2 linked regions of the Homo sapiens genome follow. The main gene of each other region encodes a partner of the protein of the gene in region 2 in a complex. Each region holds a gene or a part of one and is shown on either strand. Other genes may lie near its edges.

Region 1 (7,873 bases), on a different chromosome or scaffold from region 2:
ATCATTCTCAAAACCCCACCAGCTATGTGCTATTCCAGATGAGAAAACAGCAGCTCAGAGAGGTGATACACAGCTGGTGTCTAAGCTGCAGTCTGACTCCAAAACTCATACATTTAACTCTGTCCCCTGTTCTAACTCCTGCCATGGTGGCCAAGTGCCCAGGTGTTGTCAGATGAGTGACTCAAGGAATGTAAGAAACGAATGCACATTACCGTGTAGCATATCACACAACCACGCAAGAATGGTTTCGTTGCAGTGTTCAAGCTCTCCAAGAGAAGAGTAGTCTTTGAAGGATTAGGAAAGCTTCATGGGGGAGGTGCTCTTTGAAGTGTGGGGAGGATTTACAGAAGTGAAAAGGAGAAGGGTACTCCAGGTGGCAGGCACAGAGGTGGGAAGGTATGTGGTGCATTCATTGCAGGGCACAGGGAGAAAGTGGGACATGGAATCCGGGAGGCCTTCAGGGAGGAGATACATTTGGGCCTGTCTACCTGCCTTTGGGGCAATTTGCAGGTTTTGAGAAGTAGAAATGAGGGTCTGGAGAGGGCATCTGTGAGCCTCTTCTGGGAACCCCTCCCTTGTAGGTGTACATTGTCGGCCACGTGCCCCCGGGGTTCTTTGAGAAGACGCAAAACAAGGCATGGTTCCGGGAGGGCTTCAATGAAAAATACCTGAAGGTGGTCCGGAAGCATCATCGCGTCATAGCAGGGCAGTTCTTCGGGCACCACCACACCGACAGCTTTCGGATGCTCTATGATGATGCAGGTATTCAACCTGGAGGGCAACTGCCAGCTCCCTCCCTCCTTCTCTCCCCAGACCCGCTCAGTCCTGCTGTCTCTCTCCTGACAGGTGTCCCCATAAGCGCCATGTTCATCACACCTGGAGTCACCCCATGGAAAACCACATTACCTGGAGTGGTCAATGGGGCCAACAATCCAGCCATCCGGGTGTTCGAATATGACCGAGCCACACTGAGCCTGAAGGTCAGGAGTCCTGCGGAGGCCAGAGGAGGAGGGTGGGAGGGGCTTAAATGCATCACCACCTTCCCTCACTCTCAGCTTATCCACCTTCCCCTGACCACTGAGCCTCAGGAAGGTTGAGCTCCTTCCACCCTTCTCCAGCTCAGGATCAGAACCCTGGAGGCACCTGCCACCGAGTCAGGGCAGTGCCTCACCAAGTCACCTTTTCCCCTGGATGACTGTCACAGCTTCATACCTGGTCTCCCTGCCTCTGGCCCTGCCCTGCTATGGCCCATCCGCTACACAAGAGAGAAGAAACTAATCTCCTATAGCACCACTTTCATCTTGTCTCCGTCCTGCTCAAAAACCTTCAGTGGCTCCCCAGTGCCTTCAAGATAAAGTTGTGTCTCCTTGACCTAGTACTCAAGGCTTCCCACAGTCTGACTTCAAGCCCATTGTCCACATTTTCCGTACACAGACGAGGCTCCAGCCCCTAATTCTTTGGGCAGTCCCTCACCTCGTAGGATGAGCTTGTGGTTGTTGAGATGAAAAATATTATTCCTTTATTTATCCAACAAAATGCATTAAGTGTGTGCCATTGGCCAGGCCCTGTTCTAATCTCAGAAGATATGTAAATTTAAAAACAAAGTCACCCCTCTCCTGGACCTGACATCTTACAGGAGAGGGACAATAAATATGTAGAATTAATTATAGTACTGAGAGAAGGGCTAAGGAGAAAATCAAAACAGTGAGGCGACAGGGTGACAGCTATGGGAGGTGTGTACTGTGTTAGATAGGTGGGAAGGGGAAGTGTCCACATAAGGTGCCATTTGAGTTCTGAGTGTATTGAGGGAGGGAGCCCAGTGGGTATCTTGGGGAGGTGGAGGGAACAGCAAGTCAAAGGCCCCGGGGTGGGAATGTGCGTGGTAGGTTAGGGGAAGAGCACGGAGGCCATGTGGCCACAGTAAGAGGCACAAGGGGAGAGTGGGAGGGGAGGTCCGATCTTGCAGGCCTCCATGAGGACTCTGGATTTGGAGGGTTTTGCGCAGAAGAATGAAATCCTGTGACTTATAATTTTATGGAATCATCATGTCTGCTGTGCAGGGAACAGGCTGTAGGGGCAGGTGGGGGAGCAGTGAGGCCGTTTGGAGGGAAGGACAAATCCCAGATGACAGGATAGTAGCTTGCCCAGGGTGGAGGCAGTGAGATGGTGAAAAGTGCCAGGTCCCAGATGAATTCTGGATGCAGGATTTGCTAGAGTGGATATGAGCTGTGAGAAAAAGGGACGAATCCAGGAGGCTTCCAAGGCTCTTGGCCTGTGCAACGGTAGGCTGTGGCTGCCGATTACTGAGATAAGTGGCAGGGTGATCAGGCTTCGGAGGGTCAGTCAGAGGTCTTGTTTTGGACCTGTTACCTTTGGGAGGGCTAAATGGCATCAAGTGAAAGTGGACAGGGAAGGGGCAAGTTGGAGCTTGAAGAGGTGAGGATAGAGATGTGATCTGGGAGTGGAGAGAGGACATTTAAAGCCAACGACTGCATGAGCTAACCCAGGTCCTTGATTCTAGTAAAGGTAGATTAAGAAGAGGTCTGAGGGGTTTAAAGAGTGGCCTGTTGTCCACATGGGCACTCCAAGGGTCTGAGCAAGGGGAATGGCAGGCTGCACCATCACCCCCTAACAGGCCCTCCATTCTCCTCAGGGAGGGAGTCAGCCCTGAGCTTGAATCCTGGCTCCACCACTCATAAGCTTTTTGATCTTTTGACCTCTGTGCCTCACTTGCTTCATCTGTAAAATGGGAGTAACAGAACCTCGCAGGGTTTGAGGAGGACTACATGAAATAATGGAATGTTCCTGGCACAGAGTGGCCATGCATACGGGCAGCTCCTCTTACCCCGTCTGCAGTGGCCTGAAGCAGGTTCATAAATGTACCTGGAACCCGCTGGACTGATGAACCCTGCAGAGTCTAGCCGTGAACATGCACCTGGGTCCTAGGAGTCTACAGTTCATAATCTCTCTCATGCTTAGTGTTGCTCTTTTTATGTTGCTTTTATCTATTCATTATGTAAATATTTACTGAGCGTCTTCTATGTGTACCCTAGCATGGTGGGACCTGGGGTAAACCTGGGGTCCAATCCTGCTACCACTGAATACCTGTATGAATACCTGTATGACCCTGGCCAAGTGAATTAACCTCTTTAGGCCTCAGTTTCCTCATTTGTGAAACCTAGGTAATAAGCGCAGTTACCTCATTCGATTCAGAGGATGTCTGCCAAGCACAATGGGTGCACAGCTAAGTGCTCAATAACTACTAGTGGTCATGGTCACTGCTCTAAAGAACTTGGGGGCAAATGCAAGGTGCAGGATGGGGATGGAAGCAGACAACTGCTCACAGCCGGTCTACCCCAAACCCTTTTTCCAGGACATGGTGACCTACTTCATGAACCTGAGCCAGGCGAATGCTCAGGGGACGCCGCGCTGGGAGCTCGAGTACCAGCTGACCGAGGCCTATGGGGTGCCGGACGCCAGCGCCCACTCCATGCACACAGTGCTGGACCGCATCGCTGGCGACCAGAGCACACTGCAGCGCTACTACGTCTATAACTCAGTCAGCTACTCTGCTGGGGTCTGCGACGAGGCCTGCAGCATGCAGCACGTGTGTGCCATGCGCCAGGTGGACATTGACGCTTACACCACCTGTCTGTATGCCTCTGGCACCACGCCCGTGCCCCAGCTCCCGCTGCTGCTGATGGCCCTGCTGGGCCTGTGCACGCTCGTGCTGTGACCTGCCAGGCTCACCTTCTTCCTGGTAACGGGTAACGGGGGCAGCGCCCAGGATCACCCAGAGCTGGGCCTTCCACCATTTCCTCCGCGCCTGAGGAGTGAACTGAAATAGGACAACCGAATCAGGAAGCGAAGCCCCAGGAGCTGCAGCCATCCGTGATCGCGCCACTGCACTCCAGCCTGGGTGACAAAGCCAGACTCTCTCCAAAAACAAACCAGAAACAGAAAAGAAATGACGACCCAAGACCCCCCTACAAGCATACTTCTTTTGCGTATTATGTTTAACTCACAAAACAAAGCTCATCATGCGTTTGATTCTGTGTTGTGTTCCTTTTCTTTTCTTTTGAGACGGAGTCTCGCTCTGTCGCCCAGGCCGGAGTGCAGTGGCGCTATCTCGGCTCTCTGCAACCTCTGCCTCCCGGGTTCAAGCGATTCTCCTGCCTCAGCCTCCTAGCTGGGACTACAGGCGCGCGCCAACACGCCCGACTAATTTGTATTTTTAGTAGAGACGGGGTTTCGCCATGTTTGCCAGGCTGGTCTCGAACTCCTGACCTCAGGTGATCCGCCCGCCTGGGCCTCCCAAAGTGTTGGGATTACAGGCGTGAGTCACCGCGCCCGGCCTCTATTCCCTTCCGTATGGAAATGAGGTTAACTCATTTGCAGGAACCTAACGCCCGCCCTCCCCCGACTCGGATCGCTGGCGTGAACCCAGCGGCCCCGTGCTCTCCGGGTATCCCTGGATCGAGGCGCACGCGTTGTTGCAAAGTCTCGCACTTAGGGATTAGAATGTGCCTTTGCGTTTCGTTTTGTTTTGCAACAATACAGGTGTGAGGGATCGCAGCCCTGGTCCAGGCTCTAGTCTCCCCGCCCTCTCGCTTTCTTGGGCCTCCGGGCGCCTCAAAGGTAAAACTAGGCCATTTGAAGCCTGCGAAGCGAAGGGCAGTCGGTCTTCAGGCCTAGCGGGCTTGGCTGGGCTGGGTCGGTGGACCCCTGGGCTGGCGGCGGGAGCAGAGCATCGAGCGGCTTTTAGCTGGGGTTCGGGCGGAGGACCTGGGACAACCGCGGGCCTCGCTCCTCCCCGGACGGGGCGGGACGGGGAAGTCCCGCCCACCAGGCCCAGGCCCCGGGCCGCCCCGAGGGCTGCGCCCACCTCCTTCCTGCCTCGGCAACCCCGGGCCCTGAGGGCAGGCCCCAACCGCGGAGGAGCAGGAGAGGGCGGAGGCCGGCGGGCCATGCCCTGGTCGTCCCGCGGCGCCCTCCTTCGGGACCTGGTCCTGGGCGTGCTGGGCACCGCCGCCTTCCTGCTCGACCTGGGCACCGACCTGTGGGCCGCCGTCCAGTATGCGCTCGGCGGCCGCTACCTGTGGGCGGCGCTGGTGCTGGCGCTGCTGGGCCTGGCCTCCGTGGCGCTGCAGCTCTTCAGCTGGCTCTGGCTGCGCGCTGACCCTGCCGGCCTGCACGGGTCGCAGCCCCCGCGCCGCTGCCTGGCGCTGCTGCATCTCCTGCAGCTGGGTTACCTGTACAGGTGAGTGCTTCGCCCCGGGAGGGGAGGAGTGTCGGAGCCCAGCACCTCCGTCAGCTGGGTCACCTGTACAGGTGACACGCCATATGCCGGGAAGGGGACTGGGAGAGGGAACCAAGTCCTGTGGGCGCCTGGCCTACAGGTGAGCGTGCAGCCCTTTACGGAAAGGGAATCCCGGTAGACTGCCTTCATTCTAGCCCTAGCTTTCCTGGCACAGGCGAAGAAACTGAGGCCCAGGGAAGAAAGGGAGGCGCATGGGCTTTGAAGTCGGACCTCTCAGGGATCCACTTCTGGCTTTGCCCCCTCTCGCCTCACTTCTGCATTTCTCTGAGCCTCAGTTTCCTCCTGCGTAGAAAGGAGGTAGTCACCCTGAGACAGGTGTGACGGGCAGGCCTGTTGTGAAGAGTGAGCGAAAGAATGAGAAAGTGCCTCGCACAGTGCCTGGCCTGTAATGGCAGGGGCTGCGGACTCAGTTCAGCATCCCATGTTTCAGCATGGGCAGGGCCTTGGGAAGTCACTGACCTCTCAGTGGGGCTGTTTGGTTGCTGTTCCCATTGGGATGGGGATAGCGCCTGCCCGTTTGGTGAAGATGCAGTGAAATGACATCTGTCCACTGCCCTGGCTCAGAGTGAGCACTCAGCAACCTCAGCTGGCTTCTTGACCTGGGCCTCCCTGGGAGTTTCAGCAGCCCTGACCCCACCACAGCGCTTGCCCCTCACAAAGGCCGCCTCTCACCCTGTCTGCCTGGTTGTATTCTTCCCCCTGAAACTTGGCTTCCCACCCCAGACCCAGCAAGAGGGCAGAGATGGCCTCTGACTCATCCATGCCCATGGAGCCAGCCAGGGCTGGGCATAGGCTGGGTCCTGGAAAATGTGTGTGGATTCTGCTCCTTTTTGGACCTGGTGGAGCCTCGTAGAGATGGGAAAACAAACCCAAGGCTCAGAGGCATGCGACAAAGTCAGGGCAGAGGGTGGTGTGGGTTGGGATGGGGTGGCCAGGGCCAGGATCTGCTCTTGAATCCGTTTTTACAAACTCTTGAGATCTGGCCTTGACAAAGCCACACGGAGTCTCCAGGAGTGGAAGAGAGGAGCTTTGAATGTGGCAGTTTTGCCTGAGGGATTATAGAGACATCAGAAAACCCCGGGTGGGCATGAAGGGGTGCAGTTGTTAAGTCCTGGGCAGGCCTCCATGAGCCGTGAATCTGTAACTACCTTATGCATCTTTGTGGCCAATATTTCTGCTGAGCTTGAGTCAGACAGACTGTACTAGCTTTGGCTTTGGAAATGGGTCTCTGTTCCTGCCTGTGAATTGGCCGAGGCAGGGGTCCCTGCTAGGTCACTGGGGACCATAGGCAAAGGCTCCTGCTGAGGGAGAACCCCAGCCTGTCCTGCCTGCCTGCTCCTCAGTGTGTTCTTGTGTCCTTCCAGGGGAAGTGACAGTACATGTCTGGTGAATGAGCTTGTGATGAGTGAACGGGGTTCTCTCCCAATAGGCAACTGAGAGCAAAGTTCTGGGTGGAGGGTCCTTGGTGCATCCTCCACTTACTCTTCATGCCAGTGGGTACCCCAGACCTGTCTGTCCAAACTCTGGACTCTCTTAACTCCGCCCCAATCTCCATCCTTAACCACTCAGGGCCAGCCTCTTAAATGGGATCCCTCCTTCCAATCTAACCCTCCTCCAGCCCCTCCCCTGTGTGGCCGGGGCAAGGCAGAGTCTGATTCCATCTGGCCTGTGCCCAGAAGTGCCCAAGAGGCAAATGTCCTCTTGCCCACAGGACCCCAGGAGATCTTGGGCACACTAAAGTTTGAGAACTACTGCCTCAGGCAACTTTATAGCATGCCTTTCCAATTCAGGTTTGGATCCAAATCCTCATTCCAGTACTTATTAGCTGCTTATAATTTTTTGTTTGTTTTTTAAAAAGAGGTAGGGTCTGGTCAGGCTTGGTGGCTCATGCCTGTAATCCTAGCAGTCTGGGAGGCTGACGTGGGTGGATCACTTGAGGTCAGGAGTTTGAGACCAGCCTGCTGAACATGGCAAAAGCTCATCTCTACAAAAATTAGCCAGGTGTGGTGGCGCATGCCTGTAATCCCAGCATCCCAGCTACTCTGGAGGCCGAGGCAGGAGAATCGCTTGAACCTGGGAGGTGGAGGTTGCAGTGAGCCGAGTTTGTGCCACTGCACTCTAGCCTGGGCGACAAGCGACAGATGTAGACTCTGTCTCCAAAAAAAAAGAAAAAAAAAAAGAGAGAGAGAGGCAGGGTCTCTGTTGCCTGGGCTGGAGTGCAGTGGCACAATCAATCATGGCTCACAGTGGCCTTGAACTCCTGGGCTCAAGCTGTCCTCCTGCGTCAGCCTCCTGAGTAGCTTGGACTACAGGCTTGTACCACCACGTCCAACTAATTAAAAAAAATTCTTTGTAGAGATGGGGCTTGCTGTGTTGCCCAGGGTGGTCTCAAACTCCTGGCCTCCAGTGATCCTCTTGCCTTGGCCTGTCAAAATGTTGGGATTACAGGCGCGAGCCACTGCACCCAGACCTTATTAGCTTCTTGATCCTGTTTCCCCATCTGTAAAATGGGCTTTTGTGAGAAGTAAACAGGACAAGGTTTGTGATGAGCTT
Region 2 (7,922 bases):
GGACAGGATCGCAGTCTAGGCCCATCCCATCTGGGTCCCAAAGTGGTTGGATTCTATTTCTTTTTTTTTTTTTTTGAGACGAAGTATCACTCTTGTCCCCCAGGCTAGAGTGCAGTGGCGCGATCTCCGGTCACTGCAACGTCCGCCTCCCGAGTTCAAGCGATTCTCCTGCCTCAGCCTCCTGAATAGCTGGGATGACAGGGGCACACCACCACGCCCCGCTAATTTTGTATTTTTAGTAGAGACAGGGTTTCTTCATGTTGGTCAGGCTGCTCAAACTCCCAACCTCAGGTGATCCGCCTGCCTCGGCCTCCCAAAGTGCTGGGATTACAGGCGTGAGTCACTGCGCCCGGCCGATCTTCTTTCAATATACTTTCCAGTTTCTTGGGCAAACTAAGCTTTTTTGTTTGGAGAATAACGTGGGACCTCTGGGAGGGGAGGCTCCGGGAGGAGAGGCACAGCCAGGGCTTCCTCTTTAGAATGTGGTGTCCTTATTACTGCCCGTTTTGCCTCCTCGTCTGCCTTTGTTTCCTTTGGCCTCCAGTGTTCCTGCCTTTTGTGCACCCTGCAACGCAGAACAGCTACGTCTTTGGGGCCCACACGGCATCCTGGAGCTGTAAAATTTCTTTTTTTTTTTTTTTTTTTCATATGGAGTTTCTCTCTTGTTGCCCAGGCTGGAGTGCAATGGCACGATCTCGGCTCACCGCAACCTCCGCCTCCCAGGTTCAAGCGATTCTCCTGCCTCAGCCTCCCTAGTAGCTGGGATTATAGGCACCTGCCACCGCGCCCGGCTAATTCTGTATTTTTAGTAGAGATGGGGTTTCTCCATGTTGGTCAGGCTGGTCTCCAACTCCTGACCTCAGGTGATCCGCCTGCCTTAGCCTCCCAAAGTGCTGGGATTACAGGCCTGAGCCACCACGCCCGGCCTAGGAGCTGTAAAATTTCTTCTTTGTATTTTATTTCTTTGCCCCCAGCAGTTAAAAGTTCTCTTTCTTGGCTGGGCGTGGTGGCTCATGCCTGTAATCCCATCACTTTGGGAGGTGGAGGCAGGCGGATCACTTGAGGTCAGGAGTTCAAGACCAGCCTGGCCAACAAGGTGAAACCCCGTCTCTACTAAAAGTACAAAAATTAGCCAGGCGTGGTGGCGCGTGCCTGTAGTCCCAGCTACTCAGGAGGCTGAGGCAGGACAATCGCTTGAACCTGGCAGGTGGAGGTTGCAGTGAGCCGAGATCGCACCACTGCACTCCAGCCTGGGCAAAAGAGTGAGACTCCATCTCAAAAAAGAAAAAAAAAGTTCCTCTATGGGATGGTCTTTCCAATTTTCTTTTTTCTTTCTTTCTTTTTTTTTTGAGACGGAGTCTCGCTCTGTCGCCCAGGCTGGAGCGCAGTGGTGCGATCTCGGCTCACTGCAAGCTCCGCCTCCTGGGTTGAGGCCATTCTCCTGCCTCAGGCTCCCGAGTAGCTGGGACTACAGGCGCCCCCACCACGCCCGGCTAATTTTTTTGTATTTTAGTAGAGATGGGGTTTCACCGTGTTAGCCAGGATGGTCTGGATCTCCTGACCTCATGATCCGCCCACCTCAGCCTCCCAAAGTGCTGGGATTACAGGCGTGAGCCGGCAGCTGCATATTTTCTTATCTGTTTATTAAGTCTGTTTAAGAATTCCACGGGCCTGGCCAGGCGCGGTGGCTCACGCCTGTAATCCCAGCACTTTGGGAGGCCGACGTGGGCAGATCACAAGGTCAGGAGATCGAGACCATCTTGGCCAACATGGTGAAACCCTGTCTCCACTAAAATACAAAAAATTAGCCAGGCGTGGTGGCGGGCGCCTGTAATCCCAGCTACTTGGGAGGCTGAGGCAGGAGAATCGCTTGAACCCGGGAGGCGGAGGTTGGAGTGAGCTGAGATCGCGCCACTGAACTCCAGCCTGGGCGACAGAGCGAGACTCTGTCTCCAAAAAAAACCCCATGGGCCCTTCATGTTTCCTCTGTTGTACGTTAAATGCTCGGGAAGTATTTTGGGTTTGCAGATCTGATTCCCGAATCCTTGTAATTATCCCATCTCCGAGATCGCTCATGTTTTTTAGGTCACATTGTCATCCCACCCAGGATCTTGGGCCAGGAATTTACGCTCCGCTGAAAGGACGTTCTGACCGGGGGGTGTTCACGCTCCCAGACTAACACAGCGGCCTGTGAATCATGGTTCTCTCTCTCCTGAGACGAGAGTACTGAGGGTAGACATTAATTCAGCCCAAGCGTACAGCTGTGGCCCCAGAAATTGGTCAATTTGATCCGCGAATCCAAAAGGGTCATCTAACAGTGGTTTGAGTTCTTTTAGATTTCTAACCTCTGAACTGGTTAAAGGGGGCATTTACGAAGTCAATATCCCTTCCTCCCGGTGGTCCTTCCCTAAAGGGGAAAAGGGCTGAGGCAGGTCTTTTTGAGCAGGAGGCAAAAGGAAAGTTCTGTGGGTTTTTGTTTGTTTGTTTGTTTTTTGAGACGGAGTCTCGCTCTTGTTGCCGAGGCTGGAGTGCGGTGGCGCGATCTCGGCTCACTGCAAGCTCCACCTCCCGGGTTCAAGACATTCCCTGCCTCAGCCTCCCGAGTAGCTGAGTAGCTGGAATTACAGGCGCCCGCCACCACGTCCGGCTAATTTTCGTATTTTTAGTAGAGGCGAGGTTTCATCATCGTGGCCAGGCTGCCAGTCCTGAACTCCTGGCCTCGTGATCCACCCGCCTCTGCCTCCCAAAGTGCTGGAATTACAGGCGTGAGCCACCGCGCCCGGCCGAAAGTTTCGAATATCCCTTTGGCATTGTTCTGTTTCCCGTTGGAGCTTTCCTGAGGAAGGGGCATGTTCTAGTGGCTGTCCAGCGGGGATGTGGGTGGCAAGGTCCAGGTGGTTCTATAGGGGAGGGATGGAGGGGCGGAGGAGCGGGTGGGGGAGGGGCGGAGGGGCGAGGGGTGGGTGGGAGGGGCGGAGGGGCGGGTTGGGGAGGGGCGGAGGGGTGGGGTGGGTGGGTGGGGGGGGCGGAGGGGTGGGTTGGGAGGGGCGGAGGGGGTGGGTTGGGAGGGGCGGAGGGGGTGGGTTGGGAGGGGCGGAGGGGGTGGGTTGGGAGGGGCGGAGGGGGTGGGTTGGGAGGGGCGGAGGGGTGAGTGGGGGAAGGTGGTCTAGAGGATCCCACCCTTCTTTAGATATGGGGCGTCTCTGCTAAAAATACAAAAATTAGCCGGGCGTGGTGGTGCGCGCCTGTAATCCCAGCTACTCAGGAGGCTGAGGCAGGAGAATCGCTTGAACCCGGGAGGCGGAGGTTGCAGAGAGTCGAGATCGCGCCGCTGCACTCCAGCCTGGGTGACACAGCGAGACTCCAACACACACACACACAAAAGATATGGCGCGTCTCATTCATTCACAAGTTCCTCTTCAAAGGTTTGGCTCGTTCAGCGCCCTCGTTCTTCGTTTCCTACTTCCAAGGCCAACCTGACTTCCTCACCCTCTGGGCCTCCCCGTCTGAGTCTCAGTAAACAAGTTTCCCGCCGGTCCTGATCTGCAGAGATGGCACCTGCCACCCACTCTGCACATCCCCCTCCCGTCGCCACGGGCTCTTCCCGCCAGTGTAGCCACATTCCTGCCCCTTTCCAGTTAGCCCTTCGCGTTCGGCTTAGTCTGCGGTCCTCTTGCATTGCGACTCCGAGTTTAACTTCCAACACACACTTTCAACCTCCAAGAGACGCCCCCACCTGTGTCGCCCCAATAGCGACTTTTCTCACCGTGGTCGCCGCGGAACTTCAAGGGTCCTTCCTACCCGCGTTGCTGAGAGTCTGGGTTTACGCGTCACCTCGGGCGGGACCCGATCCTCCGCTCCTGAGGCCCCCACAATGAAGCAGTCGGACGCGTCTCCCCAAGAAAGGTAACCGCCAGCCTCTCCTGAAACAGAATGGGATCCAAATGGGATATTTGGGGGCGGCGAGTCGGTCCCGCAAAGAGAAACCAGCACTTAGAAAATTTCTCAGCGAGACCACTTTACTTGTACGGAAGGGGGCTGCCTGCGTGGGATGCAATCTCCAGAGCACACGGGACAAAGGAAGGGAGCTTCTGTTCCTCTGTCCTTTCCCTGTTGGCTGGGGTTGGACGCCCACAATCTAAGCTGATCCCGGTTGGCTAAAACTTAAAACTTTTTTAAAATAGGGTAAACGCGCCACCTGCGAGGAAAGAAGAAGGGGGTAAGGTTGATTGACAACTTTAGACCTGGAAGTTGAGTTTCTGAAGAGGAACTTACTTGTCCCAACCAAATGGTGCACAGGACGTTTATACTAAGAAATTATTCATTTTCTGAGATCCAGATTCAAGTGCCCTTTAAGTATTTTTATTTGGGCGGAGGAGGTCACTTCCTCCCACCTAATTTATTAATACGTTCATATATATATATATATATGTACATTTTTAAAGGCAGAGATGTGCGTCTCGCCATGTTGCCGCGTCTGGTCTCGAGCTCCCGGGCTCAAGCGATCTTCCCGCCTCGACCTCCCAAGGCTCTGGGAGTACAGACGTGAGCCACAGCGGCCGGCCCGTGTTTAACTCAGATAAAATCTGGGTAACACACTTTCAACGCTTCAACCCCCTCGGGCGCACCGCTCTGCGCTCATTGCAACTTTGAAAGCAGGAAGGAAGAAATGCGCAGGCTCCAGCCGCGTCCCCGCAGGCCCCACTCCCGTTTCCTAGCAACGCCGGGTCACGTGCGCCGCCGCCCGGATTCCGTAGCGTGAGCCTGCCGGAGCCGGCGCGTACATGCGAGCGTGTGCGCGCGTGCGCAGGCGGGGCGACCGGCGTCCCCGGCGCTCGCCCCGCCCCCGAGATGACGCCGTGCGTGCGCGCGCCCGGTCCGCGCCTCCGCCGCTTTTTATAGCGGCCGCGGGCGGCGGCGGCAGCGGTTGGAGGTTGTAGGACCGGCGAGGAATAGGAATCATGGCGGCTGCGCTGTTCGTGCTGCTGGGATTCGCGCTGCTGGGCACCCACGGAGCCTCCGGGGCTGGTGAGGAGCGGGTAGGGGGCGGGGGTGCGGTCCTGCAGGGGCCGGGAATGGAGGCCGCGGTGCCGACCCGAAGCCGACGGGAGCCTGGGGCCTCGGCGCGGGGCGGCCTGGGGTGCGAAAGGCCGGCCCCGGGGGCTTCCCGCGCCAGCATGGAGCTTGGGGGTGAAGTCCCAGGGTTTGAGGGGGGACTAGAGGTTCCTCCCGGCGCGGCCTGCCGGGCTCCCCCGGGCGCTCCGGCCTCGAGCCCGGCCTCTGTGTGTGGGCGTGAAGCTCCCTGCTTGGAGGCGGGAGCCAGGGGGTCCTGGCCAGGCCGGTCTTGGTCAGGGGAGGTGGGCGTCTTGCTTTTCGGTCACCTGGGGTTGGGGGTGACCTGCTTCCTGGGTGAGGGCGTCTGCGAAGGCGGTTGGAGGTGGCCCGCCCGCCGGTCCCATCGGCCAGGAGAAGGGAGACCCAAAGCCTGGGTGAGCGTCCCCTTTGGCCTGGAGCCAGGGGTCAGGGGCTGGTTGGTGCCTGCCCAACCCGTCCTGCTGGGGCTGGACTCCGCAGGACCTGGGGAAAGCGGCCTGGGCGTGGAATCTGGAGACGGGTCCACCCTGCCTGCGAGTGTTAGGGTCAGAGACCCTCCCCTGAGACTCTCTGGGGCCCCCGCAAGGGCCCGTGCGGCCTGGAGCGATCATCTTGGCGCTCCCTTCTGGAAAAGGGGCTTTTGTCCTCCAAGAGCACATGGAGGCTCTGAGTGGGTCAGCCCTCCGGATCGGGAAGGGATTACCGTTCTTCACGGGATTTAGCCCTGGCGTCTTGCCTAGGGCGTGCACCTGCCCCCGGGTGTTCTCCCAGACTCTTAAGACCTCGCAGGCTCCCTCGAGGGGCCCTGCGTGGAAGGGAAGGCGGAATCTCCCTCTGATTCTGCCTGGATTCAGCACCCAGAATGAGGTGGTCTCTGAACGCCCCTCCTCCTTTACAGGCGAGGAAACAGCCCTGTGGGAAGTCGAGGTTCCAAGGTCACAGTGAGGGGGCCCTGGCCACCCGATTCAGCGCAGGAAATAGTGAGAAAGTCGTTTTTAGCCGACTCTGACCCGCATTCGGTTTCCAGTGCTGTCTTAGGAGGGCCGTGTGTTGAGGGTGGGCAAACGTGGTTTGGAGAGCGCATTTGGGAAATGGATTGAGGTGTGTTTTTCCGGGAGAAAAGCATGACATCCTTTCTTGCTTCATAGAAAATTTCTTCCTTTGTTGAGACCCCCATTTGGTTCTGGGTTAAAGATTTATAGTGAGGCCGGGCGTGGTGGCTCACACCTGTAATCCCAGCACTTTGGGAGGCTGAGGCGGGTGGATCACCTGAGGTCAGGAGTTCAAGACCAGCCTGGCCAACATGGTGAAACCCCATCTCTACTAAAAATACAAAAATTAGCTGGGCGTGTTGGCGCACGCCTGTAATCCCAGCCACTCAGGAAGCTGAGGCAAGAGAATCGCTTGAACCTGGGAGGTGAAGGTTGCAGTGAGCTGATATCATGCCACTGCACTCCAGCCTGGGTAACAGGGAGACTCTGTCTTTAAAAAAAAAAAAAAAAGAGGTCGGGCATGGTGGCTCACGCCTGTAATCCCAGCACTTTGGGAGGCCGAGGCGGGCGGATCACGAGGTCAAGAGATCAAGACCATCGTGGCTAACACGGTGAAACCCCGTCTCTACTAAAAATACAAAAAATTAGCCTGGCGTGGTGGCGGGCGCCTGTAGTCCCAGCTGCTAGGGAGTCTGAGGCAGGAGAATGGTGTGAACCAGGGAGGCGGAGCTTGCAGTGAGCCGAGATCGCGCCATTGCACTCCAGCCTGGGCGACAGAGCGAGACCCCGTCTCAAAAAAAAACAAAAAAAAAATTTATTGTGACCGATGTGTTGGGAACAAGGTGCAGAGCTGGAGGGTCTGGCCTCCTGAAGGGTCAAGAGCAAGGGCTTCGAGCCTCTGTCCTGGGCATTGAGCCGTAGGGGGCCTTGGGCAGAGGCTGGGGAGGGGGCTCCTTCTTCCAGAGGCTTTGCCAGCTAACTCCTGACCTACGTCTGAGATTTCGTCTTCCTGGTAACCAAAGTGGCCCTTTATCGAATGTCTCCTGGGCAAGGGCCTGGCCCCAGCACTGCGGCCAGCTCTCTGGGGAGACACAGATAGGAGCCCATGGGTGAGGTGAGCGCGGAAGATAAGCCGCCCCCGCCAGCCCTGTGGAAACCCAGCCAGGCCTGACTGGGTTTCAAGCACAGCACGAGGTTCCCACATTGAGCTAATTTGGACAGCCAAGTGGGTGAAAGACCTTTGGTCTCTCCCTGCTGGGTAGGGTGGTTCACAGTTTTGTTCCTTTTGTGCATTTGTGCAGGAGACTGAGAAGGGTTTCTTCTGAGCAGAAAGCTTAGCCTGGGGCTTACTGGCCAGAGCTGCCTGCAGCCTGGGAAGCAGGTGGAGTCTGCAGTGCTGGCAGCGCCGCCGTGCAGCGGTGTAGCCGTGTGTGCGCGTGTGTGTGTGTGGTGAGAAACCCCACTTTTGCTGGGGACTGACTCGTGAAGACCACAAGGTCTGGGCAACACAGCCTTGGCCCGTGTGGGGTGGACACTGCTGTTTGCTCTGTGAATTCGTGACTGTGTTTGCCTCTCCTGAAACTTGCTTCAGGGGCGTCTGCGGGTTGGTGGGGCACAGCCGGGTGGGGTGAGTGCCCAAGGTTGGCCGTCCGCGTCTCCTGTGGGCTTGTCGGGGACCGGAGGGCCGGGGTGTGCTAGCTGGGTCCCGAGGGTGGAGGGCTTCACCCCCGAGCCTCAGATGAGAGGAGTGGGAGTGCCTGGCTGCGGCCGGTGGGGGTGGGTGGGGGAGGTGCCCGAGGCTGCTTCCCAGAGCTGTTCTCGCTGGCTGCTGTCTGA

The links. Proteins that work in one complex are often made in the same cells at the same time.
Region 1: the proteins of BSG (region 2) and XKR8 are in contact, whole or in part, in a cryo-EM structure (PDB 7DCE), measured with the Homo sapiens proteins. Residues at the interface, in NP_001719.2 of Homo sapiens: Trp326, Pro327, Gly330, Ile331, Glu334, Val335, Leu338, Val339, Ile341, Ile342, Phe343, Tyr345, Glu346, Lys350; in NP_060523.2 of Homo sapiens: His232, Leu236, Val239, Leu242, Trp243, Leu246, Gln247, Arg280, Gly283, Arg284, Ile287, Phe291, Ser294, Asp295, Leu298, Ala301, Thr302.

What each region holds. Positions count from the first base shown.
Region 1 is NC_000001.11:27,955,103-27,962,975, forward strand, and holds the start of XKR8 (XK-related protein 8), read left to right. Parts: upstream 1-4,870; 5' UTR 4,871-4,967; coding exon 4,968-5,260; intron 5,261-7,873. Other genes in the region: SMPDL3B (acid sphingomyelinase-like phosphodiesterase 3b), read left to right, coding at 582-762, 847-980, 3,374-3,736.
Region 2 is NC_000019.10:567,674-575,595, forward strand, and holds the start of BSG (basigin isoform 1 precursor), read left to right. Parts: upstream 1-4,922; 5' UTR 4,923-4,961; coding exon 4,962-5,028; intron 5,029-7,922.